Linked DNA regions of Homo sapiens. The protein of the gene in region 1 interacts with the protein of each later gene in a pairwise test. Each region holds a gene or a part of one and is shown in the gene's direction. Other genes may lie near its edges.

The links. Proteins that work in one complex are often made in the same cells at the same time.
Region 2: the proteins of FAM25A (region 1) and ZFAND3 interact in binary tests that used the Homo sapiens proteins (3 or more experiments, as listed by UniProt).

What each region holds. Positions count from the first base shown.
Region 1 is NC_000010.11:87,015,704-87,023,298, forward strand, and holds the start of FAM25A (protein FAM25A), read left to right. Parts: upstream 1-4,590; 5' UTR 4,591-4,621; coding exon 4,622-4,694; intron 4,695-6,610; coding exon 6,611-6,673; intron 6,674-7,595.
Region 2 is NC_000006.12:37,815,074-37,822,726, forward strand, and holds the start of ZFAND3 (AN1-type zinc finger protein 3), read left to right. Parts: upstream 1-4,653; 5' UTR 4,654-4,872; coding exon 4,873-4,943; intron 4,944-7,653.

The sequences.
Region 1 (7,595 bases):
TCACGAAACCCTCACATTCATGGCAGTGTGTCGGAGGTTCCAGTATGAATGGCATTTCCCAGATGTCAGCGCGAGGTCCTGTGGAGGGAGTGGGGCTCCCTGGGAATCTAGTGGAGAGCATTCAGGTCTCCCTTCCTCAGGAGCCTGCCCTTCCTGCACAGAAGCGTCAGCCTCACCTCTGTACCACTGCCCCTCTGCCTCTCAGAACCCACTTGGCTTCAGGAAGATTCTACTGCCAGCCTCCTTTCCCGGATACAGCCTCCGGGGACTCAGCCTTGCCTTCTCAAGTGCTCCAGCCTCTCTTGGGAAGGAGTGCTCTCAGATACCACACCGCTGGACTTCCCCGGGCACCACCTGCTCCTTCTTCACTTCTCCAGCTCTGCATTCTCACTCTGAGGGTCCTCTCCTGCTGGGAGTGTGTGTTGCTGGCAACAGTGAAGATTTCCCCCCTGGGTTGCCCCCCATGCCCTGTTCTTCTGCACTTCCCTGGCTTCCTGCGTTGGTTCTGCTGGTGTCTCCTGCTTTTGGGTTTACGTGGCTTCCCAGCTTCCTAATTTCTCTGAAGTTGAGTTTGATGTGTGTGTTGATGATGGGCTTTTTCCTGCTCCTCCTCCTTCTCTTCCTCCTCCTCCTCCTCCTCCTCCTCAGTCTTGTTGTTGCTCCATATAGTTTCCAGAAGGAGAAAAGGGACACTGTAAAATTAAGCTGCTGCAGGCTGGGCACAGTGGCTCATGCCTGTAATCCCAGCCCTTTGGGAGGCCGAGGCAGGCGGATCACCTGAGGTCAGGAGTTCAAGACCAACCTGGTCAACATGGTGAAACCCCATCTCTACCAAAAATACAAAACTTAGCAAGGCGTTGGTGGCATGTGCCGGTAATCCCAGCTACTCGGGAGGCTGAGGCAGGAGGATCTCTTGAACGCAGGAGGCAGAAGTTGCAGTGAGCCGAGATCATGCTACTGCACTTCAGCCTGGGGAACAAGAGCGAAACTCCATCTCGAAATAATAATAATAATAATAATAATAATAATAATAATAATAATAATAATGCCATGTTTCTATCAGACCCAGAAATCCCGCAGAGTGAGCTGGAATTCTGTTTCTCTGTTTCCCCTCCATACCCACTGGCTCCTCTCTGCCCACTCCCTCTTGGACTGCATCACCAGGGTGCCTCACTGTCTGGCCCTAGTGGAATTCAAACAGTGGAGGATGTCATAGGAGGTGGGAGAGAGAGAGGAGAGGTGGTTATTCGCTCAGATTCTTCCTTGCTGGTTTGGCAGTGGCCACATCTTTCTACTGATGGCTGCAGCTCCTGATGATCCTCCTCTACCTCCACAGCTCTCTTTGGGATCTGTGGACACCTTTCCTGTCCCTCTAGACCCAGGGAGATAACAGCTCCCACTCTTGCTGGTCCAGGACATTCCTCATCTCTTACTGGTTCCCTTAACTCGGTCCACACTTCTGTGAACAGCCCCTTTCCTCAAATACCCATTCCAATATGTCCTCTGGCTTCCACCAGGAGCCTGACTGATACCCACAGGTGGGTGAATGCTGGCATGCTGCTGGGCCCCTCTTCCTCTGGTGACTGGCCAGCCAAGTCTCCAGGAGTCTCGTTAGGGTGGGCAGGTGGTGGGCACAGCACAAACTGTGAGCTCAAATCCACAGAGCAAAAGTGGGAGAAGACACTGGCAGGATGGACCGCCACAAAACTCTTGGCATTCGTGACGTCTGTCCTTTAAATCACGCAAGGCATCATCATGCTTCAGACATGAGACAGCCTAAGTATTTAAGTATTTCAAATAAACAAATTGTTTTTCAGAATTGGTCATTGCTAAGTTGGCAAATTGCTATTGGAAACGTTGGCTGTCCTTGACTCAATGATTCAGCCAGCTAGTCCCTTGCCAAACTAGTTTGTTGGGCAAATTCCACCTTGAGAATTTATCTGCTCCTGTCAAAGCCAGATTCTCCCTGCCTGAGGGGAGGCTGGACTTGACCTTCTGACTCAGGATATGCTGACTTGGGTCCCTAGGTCCAAGGGCGGCCCTCTTGGGCCCACCGTGGGCTGGACCTCTTCCATGATGGGGTGGTGGAGGGCAGGCCCCACCTGATTCACCCTTGACCTCATCCAGGCAGGTGAAGTTCCCTGCAGGAGTCACCTGAGCCCAGCCCCTCAGACCAGGATCCATCCTGTTTAGGAGGATTTGGGGCCATCTCATGTTCTTTGGCTAGAAAGGGGTCCCACTCTTAGGGGTCTGCCCTCTGTGGGGCACAGATGGCTTGCTGGGGCCCATGGACTGGGCTGGGTGGATGGGAATCTGGTCACAGCAGCAGCGGCTGGAAGGCCAAGAGGGAGGGCACCAGGGCCTGGGACCCATGTCTTGTCCTGGGCCTCCCCGGGCCTCTTGCCTTCTCCCCAGCAGGCATTTGGGATCTGTGTCTGGACCCAGCCTTGCCCAGAAGGCCATGGTGTGTTGTCATTAGAATCACAGTGCTCACACCAAGGCAGTGCATTAAATTAGCAGGGCAGGGTCTCATGGGCAGGGGACCATGTGGAGGGGGTGGGGGAAGGACAGTTGTCCCCCGAGGCTGCGGTGGGCCTGGCTCTGGTCTGGGCAGTGGGCCAGGGTCCTGCTGTGTGGCTGAGCTCTGACAACAGGCTGTCTGAGTCTGGTGAGCTCCTGAAAGCGGGGACTGGTGGAGAGTACCCTAGGGTGGGAGCTCGTGAGGAGGGGGTCTGTGGGGTCTGGAAGCCATTCTAGAGCAGGCAGATGACATTTATCAGCGGAACAGGCATAGAAAGGACCCTTGTGCGAGTGGGGGACACACAGCCTCAGAAGAAACAGGGAAGGGGCTTTGACAGGTCCAGGGAGAATCCCTGAGGTTTCCTAGAACAATTCCCACCAGCCATGTCCCAGGTGTCCCCCCATCCCCCAGGCCTCTGCAGTGCCAGCCCAATGCCCTGGGCAAAAACATCCTGGACTCTGGCTGTTACAAAAGGAGGACAGGGTCATCTGGACCCGCCTGAGCTCCAGGCCCCCGACTTTCACAGCCCCTTCTGGGTCCAGAAGTTCATACGTATATAAATGAAAAATGTGCAAGAATCATATTATTGTATTCTTTTTCATAAAGAGGGCCCCTCTAAATTGTTTAAGCCCCAATTCACCCCTGCCCAAAGGAGATAGCAATGGCATGTGTGGGGCCGTAGTCTTGAGACCCAGAGGTCCTGCTGCCCACGATACCCACTGTCCACCCTAGGGGGACTGGCCGTAGCCCTGGAGCCCGCAAACACCATGCAGGAATGCAAGAGGGTCTCAGCTCCCGAGTCCCAGGCTGGGAGGGCCCACAGTCCAGTAAACTAATCAGGCCCCAACACACCCAGGAGAGCAGCTCCAGGAGCCTGCATTGAAGAGAGAGCCTCAGACCCCTGCCACAGGCCTGCACCCCAGAAGTAGGAGGATGGGAAGACCTCTCCTTGGCTCCTGGCCAGCGGAAGTCACATTCCCCAGCCCTCTGGCTCCAAGGCAGCCTCACGTCCCAGTCACTCCTTGGCCCACCCTACCGGTTGGTCAGAGCTCACTGCCAAAGGGCACCTCAATGATGAGTGGAGGGAACAGGTGTTTACCAGGAGCTTGCATGCTTTGTCTCAGGGACGATTAGTGACACAGCCAGGAAGGCACGCTATCCCCATTTTACAGATGAGGAAACGGAGGCTCAGGTTGGGCTGGTGACTAAGGGAAGCAGCATGTGGCAGGTGGCTTGAGGCATGTCTGTCCATCATGAGTAACTAGGGAGCAGCCCTGCCACTCCTCATGTGATGCACCAGGAGCCAGGGAAGCTGCTTTCTAGGGGATTCTAGCTAAGGCCAGAAGCATCTCCCTGAGTGGTGGTGGAGGCCTCTGTCTACTCCTCCAGGACTGCCAGGGGATAGGAGGGCACTGCTGGCCTCACAGACACTCTTGGGTGAGTGAGCATCAGCTGAGCAAAGCCAGGTGACTACACTTCTGCCCAGTGCTGTGCCCCCCTCTGACTCAGGCAAGGCACCACCCTGAACGCCCCACCCTGTCCCATAGAGGCCACAAACTGCTCTGCAGAGCCAGGGTCTCCAGGAATGGGGAGGGCAGTCACCCTCACTCCACTTGTGTTCATGACCCAAAGGACTGCCCAGGTCTCCAGGCCCATAGAACCCCTAAACCTCTTACTAGGCCACACTGGGGACCTTGAGCAGCAGGCTTGGAATCCTAGGCCTTGTCTCCAGGTACATATCAGTACCCAGGCTTGGGAAGTTTTGGTCTCGGGGGGCTGGCACTCAGGCCCTCTGCCTCAAGGAAGAGGCATGTCCAGATCTCTCCTGTCCAGCCCTGCTCCCTGCCCCTATCCTTCACGGGGTCCCTAGGACAGGGTTACAGAAGCCTCAGGCTGTCAGGGGATGCTGCCACCCCAGTGCCAGGGTGGCTCCGCCCAGCCCCTTCCTGCTGCCGCCCTCGCTGACTCACCTGTCCAGCCTCCTACTGGGCTGGGGCAAGGGCTTGTTGCCCCAGAGCCTAGACAGGCACCAGAGGCAGCTATAAAAGCATGTTGGGCCAGTCCTCAGCATCCTAGTTCACCACTGTCTGCTGCCACACGATGCTGGGAGGCCTGGGGAAGCTGGCTGCCGAAGGCCTGGCCCACCGCACCGAGAAGGCCACCGAGGGAGCCAGTGAGGACCTGGGGCTCCTTTCTACCTGGGCTGGGGGGATCTGGGGCAGACTGGGTCTGTGGGAGGCGGATCTAAGTAGGCAGGTGAGGACCTGGGAGGAGGCCTTGGCCCCTCAGGAACCCTGGTCCCCTGCTCTACCAAGTCAGCACGGAGTTGAGGGGTGCAGACCTGGGGAGGTCTCCTGGGGGCAGGGCATGAGTCCTGGTGCTGGGTGAACACTGGCAGCTTGGACCCTTCCCTCTGGAAATCTGGGGAGCCTTTCTTGTCAAAACAGCCTATTCTGAATAACCTATGCAGGAAAAGGAAGATGGATTTTTATTTTTACCATAACTTTAAAGCTTCAAAGATTTCTAAACAAGTCACCAAGTCTGTTCAAAGTCAAAAAGGGCATTTTCAATTTCATCCAAGTCCCCTGAAGCATGTTTATTTTTATTTTTATTTGTATTTGAAATGGAGTCTTGCTCTGGCACCCAGGCTGGAGTGTAGTGGTGCGATCTCGGCTCACTGTAACCTCTGCCTCCTGGGTTCAAAGTGATTCTCATGCCTTAGCCTCCTGAGTGTCTGGGATTACAGGCACCCACCACCATGCCCAACTAATTTTTATATTTTTAGCAGAGACAGGGTTTCGCCATGTTGGCCAGGCTGGTCTCAAACTCCTGACCTCAAGTGATCCATTCCTCTTGGCCTCCCAAAGTGCTGGGATTGCAGGCGTGAACCACCGCACCTGGTCCCGAAGTGTATGTTGTATTCAGAGGTCAGCAGCTATGTGTGGGGAGGCCCAGCCAGGAGCCACTCATGGGTCATCGTGTGAAAAACAGTCTTGCCTGAGTTTGTGTCCTCTTTCTAAATGGCAGCAGACGCGTATTTTGTTTTTGACTCTGCAGCTGGTGTGGACCACCTGCTTTAACCTTTCACTAGCCTCTGAGTTTTGTATGATTCCTGTTGGGAGAAAAGCTGAGTGTTGGGAGAGAAGCTGAGGCAGGGCTTGCTAGATTGGCTGGCTCCTTGCTTCTAGCACTCCCATTTTCTCAAGTAGCCGTATGTTTCTCATTCACTTGATACACCGTTTCCTTTCAACCGCCACATCCTCACCACCTGTTTCTTTGTTAGATCACCAATAAATAGCATGGGTTCCCAGAACTCCGGGCCTTCGCAGCCTCCACACTCGCGATGGCGCCCCGCTCCCATTTTCTCTCTCAAACTGTCTCTTTCTCATTCCTTTGACTCCTCTGGACTTGCCGCCCCCGCGACCTGGTGTTGGGTCTCATCACCCCAACAGATTCCCATTCTAAAGATGAGGGAACCAAGAGGTGGAAGGTAGAGTTAGAATAAGAACCATTTCTTCTGACTCTGAAATCCTTCAGTTCTAGCATGCTACCACCTACACTTTAAAAAACTCTGAAGTAGGCAGAGAATTCCCTTTTGTTGGAGGAATTGCTTTGAGAGACCTGGTTTTACTGGATGAGGCTTTGGAAACCAACCTGAGGCAGGCGCTAGCACATCCTGAGAGGGGTGTGACCTGGCACAGAGGCCCAGCCTGGGCTTCATGTCTCAGCTGGCAAGATGGCCTGCTCATTGCCATTCCAGGCCGGGCAGGGCCAAGGGGCTTCAGGGACCCATGCCCTCATGGGGCTCACTGAGCTCGTCTCCCGGCAGCCAAGGCCCTGGCGTCTCCGAAGGAAGCCAGCTGTGGGGGAAGGTCCTTCTCATGAGCCAGTCTGTCCTGGCTGGGGGTGGCATCCCAGAGCCCCATCTAGGATGTCCAGGGATGTATAGGTCCATTGTGAGGATAAGCCAGCACTGAGCCCTCACCCTGGACTGGGAGGGCAGTGGGCCTGCTCTGAGCCCTCACCCTGGACTGGGAGGGCAGCGGCTCTGCTCTGAGCCCTCACCCTGGACTTGTCTCCTCTGTTCAGTTCATGCCGTGGAAGAAGTGGTGAAGGAGGTGGTGGGACACGCCAAGGAGACTGGAGAGAAAGGTACAGCTGGCTGAGGTCGGGCAGGGAAGGAGGGAGGGAGCAAGGGAAGCTAGGTGCTGGGCCAACCTGTTCTTTGACTAACCAGGTCAAACTCTGCCCCCAATGTTGCAGCCTTTCAGAGCCTCTTGGCTGGGGCAGTTATCTATGCTCATCAGAGGCCACAGACTGTACTGCGTTAGGGCACTGTCTAGATGGTTCTGTCTGTGGAATAAGAAGACAAAGTCACACAAGACTATGTGACAGCACACTGGGACAAAACATTTAACATGGCAGGGCGCGGTGGCTCACGCCTGTAATCCCAGCCCTTTGGGAGGCTGAGGAGGGTGGATCACGAGGTCAGGAGATTGAGACCATCCTGGCTAACACGGTGAAATCCCATCTCTACTAAAAATACATAAAAATTAGCCGGGCATGGTGGTGGGTGCCTATAGTCCCAGCTACTTGGGAGGCTGAGGCAGGAGAATGGTGTGTACCTGGGAGGCAGAGCTTGCAGTGAGCCTAGATCATGCCACTGCACTCCAGCCTGGGCTACAGAGTGAGACTCGGTCTCAAAAAAAAAAAAAGAAAAAAAAAATTGCTGGGTGTGGTGGCTCACGCCTGTGATCCCAGCACTTTGGGAGCCTGAGGTGGGCGGATCACGAGGTCAGGAGATCCAGACCACGGTGAAACCCCATCTCTACTAAAAATACAAAAAATTAGCTGGGCACGGTGGCGGGTGCCTGTAGTCCTAGCTACTCGGGAGGCTGAGGCAGGAGAATGGCGTGAACCCGGAAGGCGGAGCTTGCAGTGAGCCGAGATCGTGCCACTGCACTCCAGCCTGGGCGACAGTGTGATACTCCGTCTCAAAAAAAAAAAAAAATTTAACATGTAAAATTCTATGTTAAATGTTAAATTGATGTGTGTGAGCTATGAGTAGAACTAT
Region 2 (7,653 bases), on another chromosome or scaffold:
TCTTCCACTGTAGGCCAACTGTACCTCACATTCCTGAGTCTACATAGGTGACTTGGAGTGCATGTATTCTGGACTTTCAGAGGCTTAGTAGTCCCTGAATTAGGCAACAAGAAATGTGACTGGGCAGGGTCTCTGCCTCCTGCTCTGGTCACAGATGCCCCACTTTCTCTTTCCTGGCAGCCCAAGGCCTTGGATCCAACCTGGATTATTGAAATTGGCTCTCATTCTCTCCAGAGGTCCAGGATGTTATAGGGTTCTCTGCTCTCATTCGTCAGTCAGGGTCAAGGGACCCAAGAAAAAGGAGCTAGGGAAAATAACTCAGTGGCAAGGCAAAGAGCCTTTGTTAAGCTCATAAAACTAGAGTTGGGAACTGAGATTAAATTTTACAGATAATATTAGGATTAGAATTAAATCTAGAGTTTGGATTGGACATTGGGGCTAATACTAGGTTAGGATGGATTATAATGATGACAAGTTTTGAACTGAGAGTGAGTTTCAAGGGTAGGGATTAGAATTAGAGTGGAGGATCATCTGCTTTCTCTCAGGTCTCTACAAGTCCCTTCTTTTTGGTAAAGTCTTCCAGGGCTAAGTAGGTCTTTTGAATTCTTACCAAGAAGGCAGCCATTGTTTGCTCCTGACCTTGAATCATACCAGGCTCTTTTCTATACACCCTCAGTTCCTACTTCAAAAGCTCTGGCTGCTGAAGAATTAATATTATCCTTTACTAGACCCCACTGAGCACGTAGATGGCTCCTTTTGGGCCAATGGTGATTGCAAACTACTCCCAGGAGTCACATCACAGGTTCATCTGGAACATAATACACGACAGAAAATAGTCAAGACAATTACGACAAAAGCACTCTGCCAATTACCCCCACACTTTGCTCCCCTAATTTGATGATGCCCTGAAATTTTATGTCCTCTCTGAGCTTTCAGTCAACTAAGTGGGCTTGTTATAGGAATTGGATCAAGGGCTCTATAGATAGAGACACTGGGAACTAAGAGTAAAGAGTTATCTGGCTAGGAACGTCATAAGCAGCAGCTAAATACTGTCTCATCTCATACAACTTCAGTGTGACAAAAAAGCTGGCAGCCTTGTGATGAATGAGGTCAGAAAAAAAAAAAAGCAGAGAGCTTCAATGTCTTCTAGGGAGGGTGGGTTGGTAACTAAGACATTCCCCCAGGATTGTCTAACTATGACTCCAATCCATTTGTGGGTCTCACATTGACTAACAAATTATTGTGCTTTTATTCATACAACATTTATTGAACGCCTCCCAAATGCACCTTGAGTATTGTGTATATCACAGTAAACAAAACAGACATGATTTTTGGAGAGGAGACTCACAAATACATATTTAAACTATGATAGGTACTATAAAGAAAAAGAGTGCCATGTAAGATAATAATGGGGCCACCAAATTTTGATTGGGGCTTGGGTCAGGGATGACTTCTTTGAAGGAGTTCCATTTAAATTCAGGTCTGAATTTGTTTAAGTAGGAGTCAGTCTGTTGAAAATCCTTAACATGTCAATTGTTCTTTATGCTTTTGAAGTTCAGCTGCAATTTACTCCTTTATGGTCTGTGGTGGACATTTTTTGGAATCTTTGCCAAGTACATAACTTTGAGAACATAGCCTACAAAGATGGGGTTCTGGCAGCCATGTCTGCTTTACAAAACAAAAAGACCTGACTACATAACTGCCCTGTTGGTCAAAGGTGATTGTACCAAGAGTACACAAGCGGACATAAATCGAACCAATCAGTTTCTTTCTCCTGGGGATTGGGATTCATAGATACTAATTAGTCTCTGTTTGTTCTTGAAGTGAGGCTGGGTAAACCTGGATTACGTTCCCAAAAAAGCAGTGAAAACAGCTCTGCCGAGATTATAAAGCAGCTTTGTAGAGAGAAGCAGAGATGGAAGAACCTGTAACCAGAGAGAAAAAGATATCGAAAAAAACCAAACACTTGGCTTCCTGTTGATGTATTAGGTACCTATTTCAGTCCTTCATGCGATCTTACTGCTCTCTGTGTCCTTGGGTTGTATAAGATTATCTCCTTGTGTTGTGTGTATACATATAAAGAGAAAAGGCAGCTGAAGCAGTCAGGAACAGGAGGACAAAGGAATGGAGATGTGGGAAAGCAAGGTATTTGAGGAATGGCAACTAGTGTCTGCTTCGCAGAGTGAATAGAGAAGAGTAGAAAATGAAGTCTGAGAGGAAGACTGGAACCAAATTATCTACATTATATGTAGGGACCTGCTGGTGAATGCTACATTTTATTAATCCTTTTAGTCTCCAGAGTGCTTAGCAAAGTCCTTGTGTATACTGGGTACTGAATAAATGTTTGTTGAATAACTGGCAAACAGGAAAGCAGTTTGGAAAATGACAATCACTTTTTATGTTGAATTCTCCTTTTAGTTGTCGAGTTTCCTTTTCTGTACATAAAAGAAAATCATCAAGATGCCAAGAGAGATAATCCCACTTAATCTTTGTTAAACTCAAAGGCTGTTAAGTATCTCACGCATGTGGGAATTTTATGTCGGCTTAAATGAAGATTTAAGGGTAATATGAATCCAATGAGAGCAAGGTGTGCTGTATGGCTTTATCCTTTCTATGCATTTTTTCTTTCTTTCTTTCTTTTTTTGAGACAGAGTTTCGCTCTCGCTCTTGTTGCCCAGGCTGGAGTGCAATGGCATGATCTCGGCTCACTGCAACACCCGCCCTCCGGGTTCAAGCGATTCTCCTGCCTCAGCCTCCCAAGTAGCTGGGATTACACGCGTGCCACCATGCCCGGCTAAGTTTTTGTATTTTTTTTTTAACTAGCGACGGGGTTTCACCATGTTAGCCAAGCTGGTCTCGAACTCCTGACCTCAGGTGATCCACCCGTCTTGGCCTCCCAAAGTGCTGGGATTACAGACGTGAGCCACAGCGTCCGGCTTTTTCTATGCACTTTCTTACAGATATACTTATTGAAGGCTTTGGAAAATCCACCAAATTAAAACTAAACATTGTGCATAATAAATCAGCACTCACATTTTAGGGTGTTTTGGCTTTAAGTGCTTGATTTTTGCAATCATTAACTTCACCATCAACAGCATCTGTGGCATATTAAGCTAAATGCGATCCTTGCTCTTTAGAGGCCAAAATAAACATCAATGTTAACAAACCCACACAGTATGCACAAACAGAAATGTGATTTGGTATATAAAGAAATAAGATAGCAACATTTGGTAATCAAATTAATCTAGGTAATAGTCTCTCTGAGGCTCTGATATACCCGACAGGCAAGGAGGGTATACGGCAGCTATTCCTAAGAGCCAGGAAGTCTTCCTCAGCGATGGGTCTCCAAAAGGTCTGGAGGATGTTGCCTCCGTGTTGAATTAGTCATCAATAATCGATTTCTCTGTTCATGACTAACTGGAGATCAGAATGAGCTCAGGATCAAGGACTAGGATCGTTAAAGGACTCATTTTTTTAGTGTCTCAAACTTCTTTGGTCACTTACCAATTTCCATTACTGATTCAGCTACAGCTCCCCTTTCCCCTCCAAAAACCAAACGTGTCAGCTGTAGGAAGAAGTGCGGCTCTCCTAGCCTGGGCATAGGGACTCGCCTGGGCATAGATAATGTACTTGTGGCTCTGTGGTTGGGAGTGGAGACAAGGAACTCCCCAACACCGGTGGGGGAGAAGAGACAAGGAAGTTGCCCCAGACAAGGGGCTGGGGGAGGGGCATTTCCCAAAAGTTCCTGTCAAGAGACCAGTATACCGGGTGGAACTATAAGAGTTGTTTGGGTGTGGCGGGACCAGGAAGAGAGAGAGAGATGCCCAGGGAGTTGGCAAATTGGGGAGAATGGCTCCCCGGAATCGCCCAGGAGCCAGAGCGGCAGCTCCAGGGACCTTGACTCCGACGCCCCCGGGAAGCCAGAGCTCCACTTCCGCGTTTGGCATTGCTCCCCCAGGCCCCTCCTCGCACTCGGTTACGGGTTCTACGGGCGCATGCGCCGCCACTCTGGGACTGGCCCAATTTACCCTACACAACTAATCTGCTCCTCCCCCTCCCGCTTGGAGCGCACCATTCGCGTTTAGGGGGAGGCACCGCGCCCCGGAGTACTCAGAAACCTGCTCCCCTTCTTCAGACAGGGGGAAGATAAGTTTGCTTCAGATTCTAAAAGTTCTAAGAATACGAAGGCCTCAGCCGCCCGTCGCCGGGCGACAGCCCGAGGCTCTCGTTTTCTCCCACAGCCCCGCACTCCGCCTTTGAGGCGCGGAACGAAGTGGCACGCCCGGATCCCAGCTGATCAGCGGCTGGGCTTTGGCGTTGGCTCCCCCGGGCGAGACCATTGTGACTCCTCGGGAGGGGCGCACGCCGGGGAGGGGGCGGAGCGGCCATTGTCCGGTCAGCGCAGCCTCCGGGGGAGGGGACGGTGTTACGGAGACAGCAGGGCCCGGGGCTTCAGAGCGGCCGCTGCGACTCCGGAGCCGGCGGGGGGCTCCGGTCCTTCCCTGCGCCACCGCACAGGACATCTCTCTGGCTGGGGAGCGGCGGTGAGACCCGCCGAGGGCGTCTGTGTCCCTCCTCCCCCGCGGTCCTCGGTGCGTCCGCACGCCCCTCCTCCTCGGCTCCCTCCTTCTTCTCTCCGCGCCTCTCCGCCCCCTCCCCGTCTCCGCAGGCCGAGTGGTGCGGCCCGCCTCCAGCTGACCGGCCTGGAATCCCGGCTCCGAGCCCCGGACTCGCGCCCGCCCGCGCGCCCGCTCCTTCCCCCTCCCCCCGCCCCGAGCCCCCCGACGCCGCCGCCACCGCCTCCTCAGAGCGGGGCCCGGGCCCAGCCGCCGCCACCGCTGCCGCCGCCGAGCTCCGCCGCCGCCGAGCACCATGGGAGACGCTGGGAGCGAGCGCAGCAAAGCGCCCAGCCTGCCGCCTCGCTGTCCCTGCGGCTTCTGGGGGTAAGTGCCCGGCCGGGTGGGGGCGGGGGGCGGGGGCCGGGGGCGCAGACGCCAGGGCAGCCTGGGCAGGCCTCGGGGCCCGGGAGGCCGGAACCTTGGAGGCTGGGCCCAGCCCGGGCCTACGGGGAGGGGGTGGGGGTCGCGTTCCGGGGAGGGGTGCCGGGTGGGGAGCTGGGGGTGGGCAGAGAAGGCCCTGCCGGGGGTGCGTTGCTACCCTTTGGGACTCGCCGGCCTGAAGCTCGGGCCCACGGGGGCCTCCTGGGCCACGGGTGAGGGGGGCAGGGCGGCGGGGAGGGATGAGGGGGCGGCGTTGACCGCTCCGGGAGGAGCAGGGGTGCCCCTTCCGTGGGCATGTGGAAGCCAGCCCTTCCTCCCTCCCGGGGCGTGAGTTGGTGCCCAGGCACTAGGAGGGTATTTCCTCTGACTTCTTCACCTCCCCTCCTCCCCGTCCTCCGGAGACTTGCATCATCACTTCCTAGATTATATCCCAGTGCCCCATTTGCTTTTAGGAAGCTATTCACACGTCACCCGTTTGTAAAAACCGAGTCCAGAACCAGGCTGGGGTAAAGTTATAAGATTGTTGAGGTCTCACCTTCATGTAAAACACGTTTCAGGAGATATGTAAAATTTCCTTGTCAAAAAGGAAGAAAAAAACCACACAAAACCTGAAGTCAGCCTGGATTGGGGAATATGAGATCCAGTTTCCTCAGTTGGCTCTCAAATTCTCCTCTTTCTCAATTTAAGTAAAAATGATAAAAATGTTGACAGTGGGTAGCATATATTGTTTGGCCATCATGTGTTAAGGCGAAAAAAATGTGAGGTGGGAAATCAGCTCCTCTTCCTCCCCCCATTACTGTTTAAATTCTCCTGGTAACACTTTAAGCTTCATGGATTGCCACCTAACAGGTGCCTCCATCATACCACATGACTGTAGTTCTGCAGTAAGAAAGCTGGAGACTTTGAAGGCTGGCTTTTGTGATTTGAGTCCCTTTTCTCTTTTATCGTTTTGTTTTAGTTTTATTTTTTGAGAGATTCCGTATATTTGGAGACATAGAGGCAGGAAGGAAGATTGTTTCTGGTGAGGACATCTTGGGAAGAAGTATGGAAGTAGTTTTCCCTTTGCTATCTCCCATATTGTAGGAATGGTTAACAGAAATTAAGAGTAATTTTGGGAGTGCAGAGAAAGATTAGAAAGTGGATCTTAATGTAGACTTCTGTGGAAGTTGTCGTATCTCAAGGTTATGACAAAGAAGTGGATTTTCATTTTCTCATTTTTCTGCCTTTCTCAAAAATTTCCCTGTGGAAGGACATTAGTCAAAAATAAGTTGTGGCATATAAAAAGTCCTAAAAATGTGAAAATATTTCTAGTCTTCCCTTCATTTTGATTTGAAAATAATTGGTTTGCCTGTGAAGTGCTTTCATGGACTGTCTAATTCCCACAAGAATCTTGCGAGGTAGGAACCATTATCTCATTATTAGCTGGGGAAACTGAGGCTTTGGGTGGATAATTTGCCGCTTCACACAGGGAGTGTAGGGTGGAGCTGGTGAGCTCTTTAGAGTGCGTAGTACCATCATGTTTATGGTATCAGTCTGCTGCCCTGGAAAAATCTTGTGTCACAAGCCTCAGATTGTAACTCATTGTAAGACATATGTCCTAAAGAAAGTCGCTGCCAGTGGCAGCTAATGCTCAGGATGTATCAGGTCTCTTTCCTGGCAACACGTTTATGTCCTTCGGACTGTTACCATGAATGGAATCTTTATCGAAAGACTTATATCAAGGCTTAGAAACTAAGGAAATGGAATAGCCTTTTACCTTTATTTATTTATTTATTTTTGAGTCGGAGCCCTGCTCTGTTGCCCAGGCTGGAGTGCAGTGGCGTGATCTCGACTTACTGCAGCCTGCACCTCCCGGGTTCAAGCAGTTCTCCTGCCTCAACCTCCCAAGTAGCTGAGACTGCAGGTGCACACCACTATGTCCGGCTAATTTTTGTGTTTTTTAGGAGAGACGGGATTTTGCCATGTTGGCTAAGGTGGTCTCAAACTTCTGACCTCAGGTGATCTGCCTGCCTTGGACTCCCAAAGTGCTGGGATTACAGGCATGAGCCACCGCGCCCGGCCAGCCTTTTACCTTTAGCCGGTAGGGTTCTGATAATGCCAATAGAGTTTGGTGGCAGCAGACAGGAAAAGTTACACTAATGTTGTACTTGACCTATAAGCAACCAGGGCTTCTTTTTAGATATTTTCAGTCTGATACTTTTTATGAACTTCAGTTTACCTAGCAGGAGTAGTGACCACAAAACTAGTATTTTTATCGTGAAAAGTGTTCTTTTTGGTGCAATGTTTTAACCTTTCCTAAGGACGTTTGTAGACAATTGTGTAGTTTGTATTTTATACCAAAGCATAGCAACATTGCCGCCTTGTTTCCATCGTATCACAACTGACTTTGGACATGTTTCCCTTACTGTATGGGCCACATTCATATTTTGTTCACTGAGTAAACTTAGAATATATTTAACAGATATTTGAATGCCTGTGATATAATGGTGGGCAAGGAGGTGCTGGCCCCATACTCTGGGGCAGGGGGCACAGGGAAGTAAACTGACAGTTGCAATACGTTGTACAGGTGCTCTAGGGGAGGGGCACCTACCCTAGCTGGGGTGGAGGTAGAGGAAAGTAGCCTGGAGAAAGTGACACTTTAGCCTAGACCCAC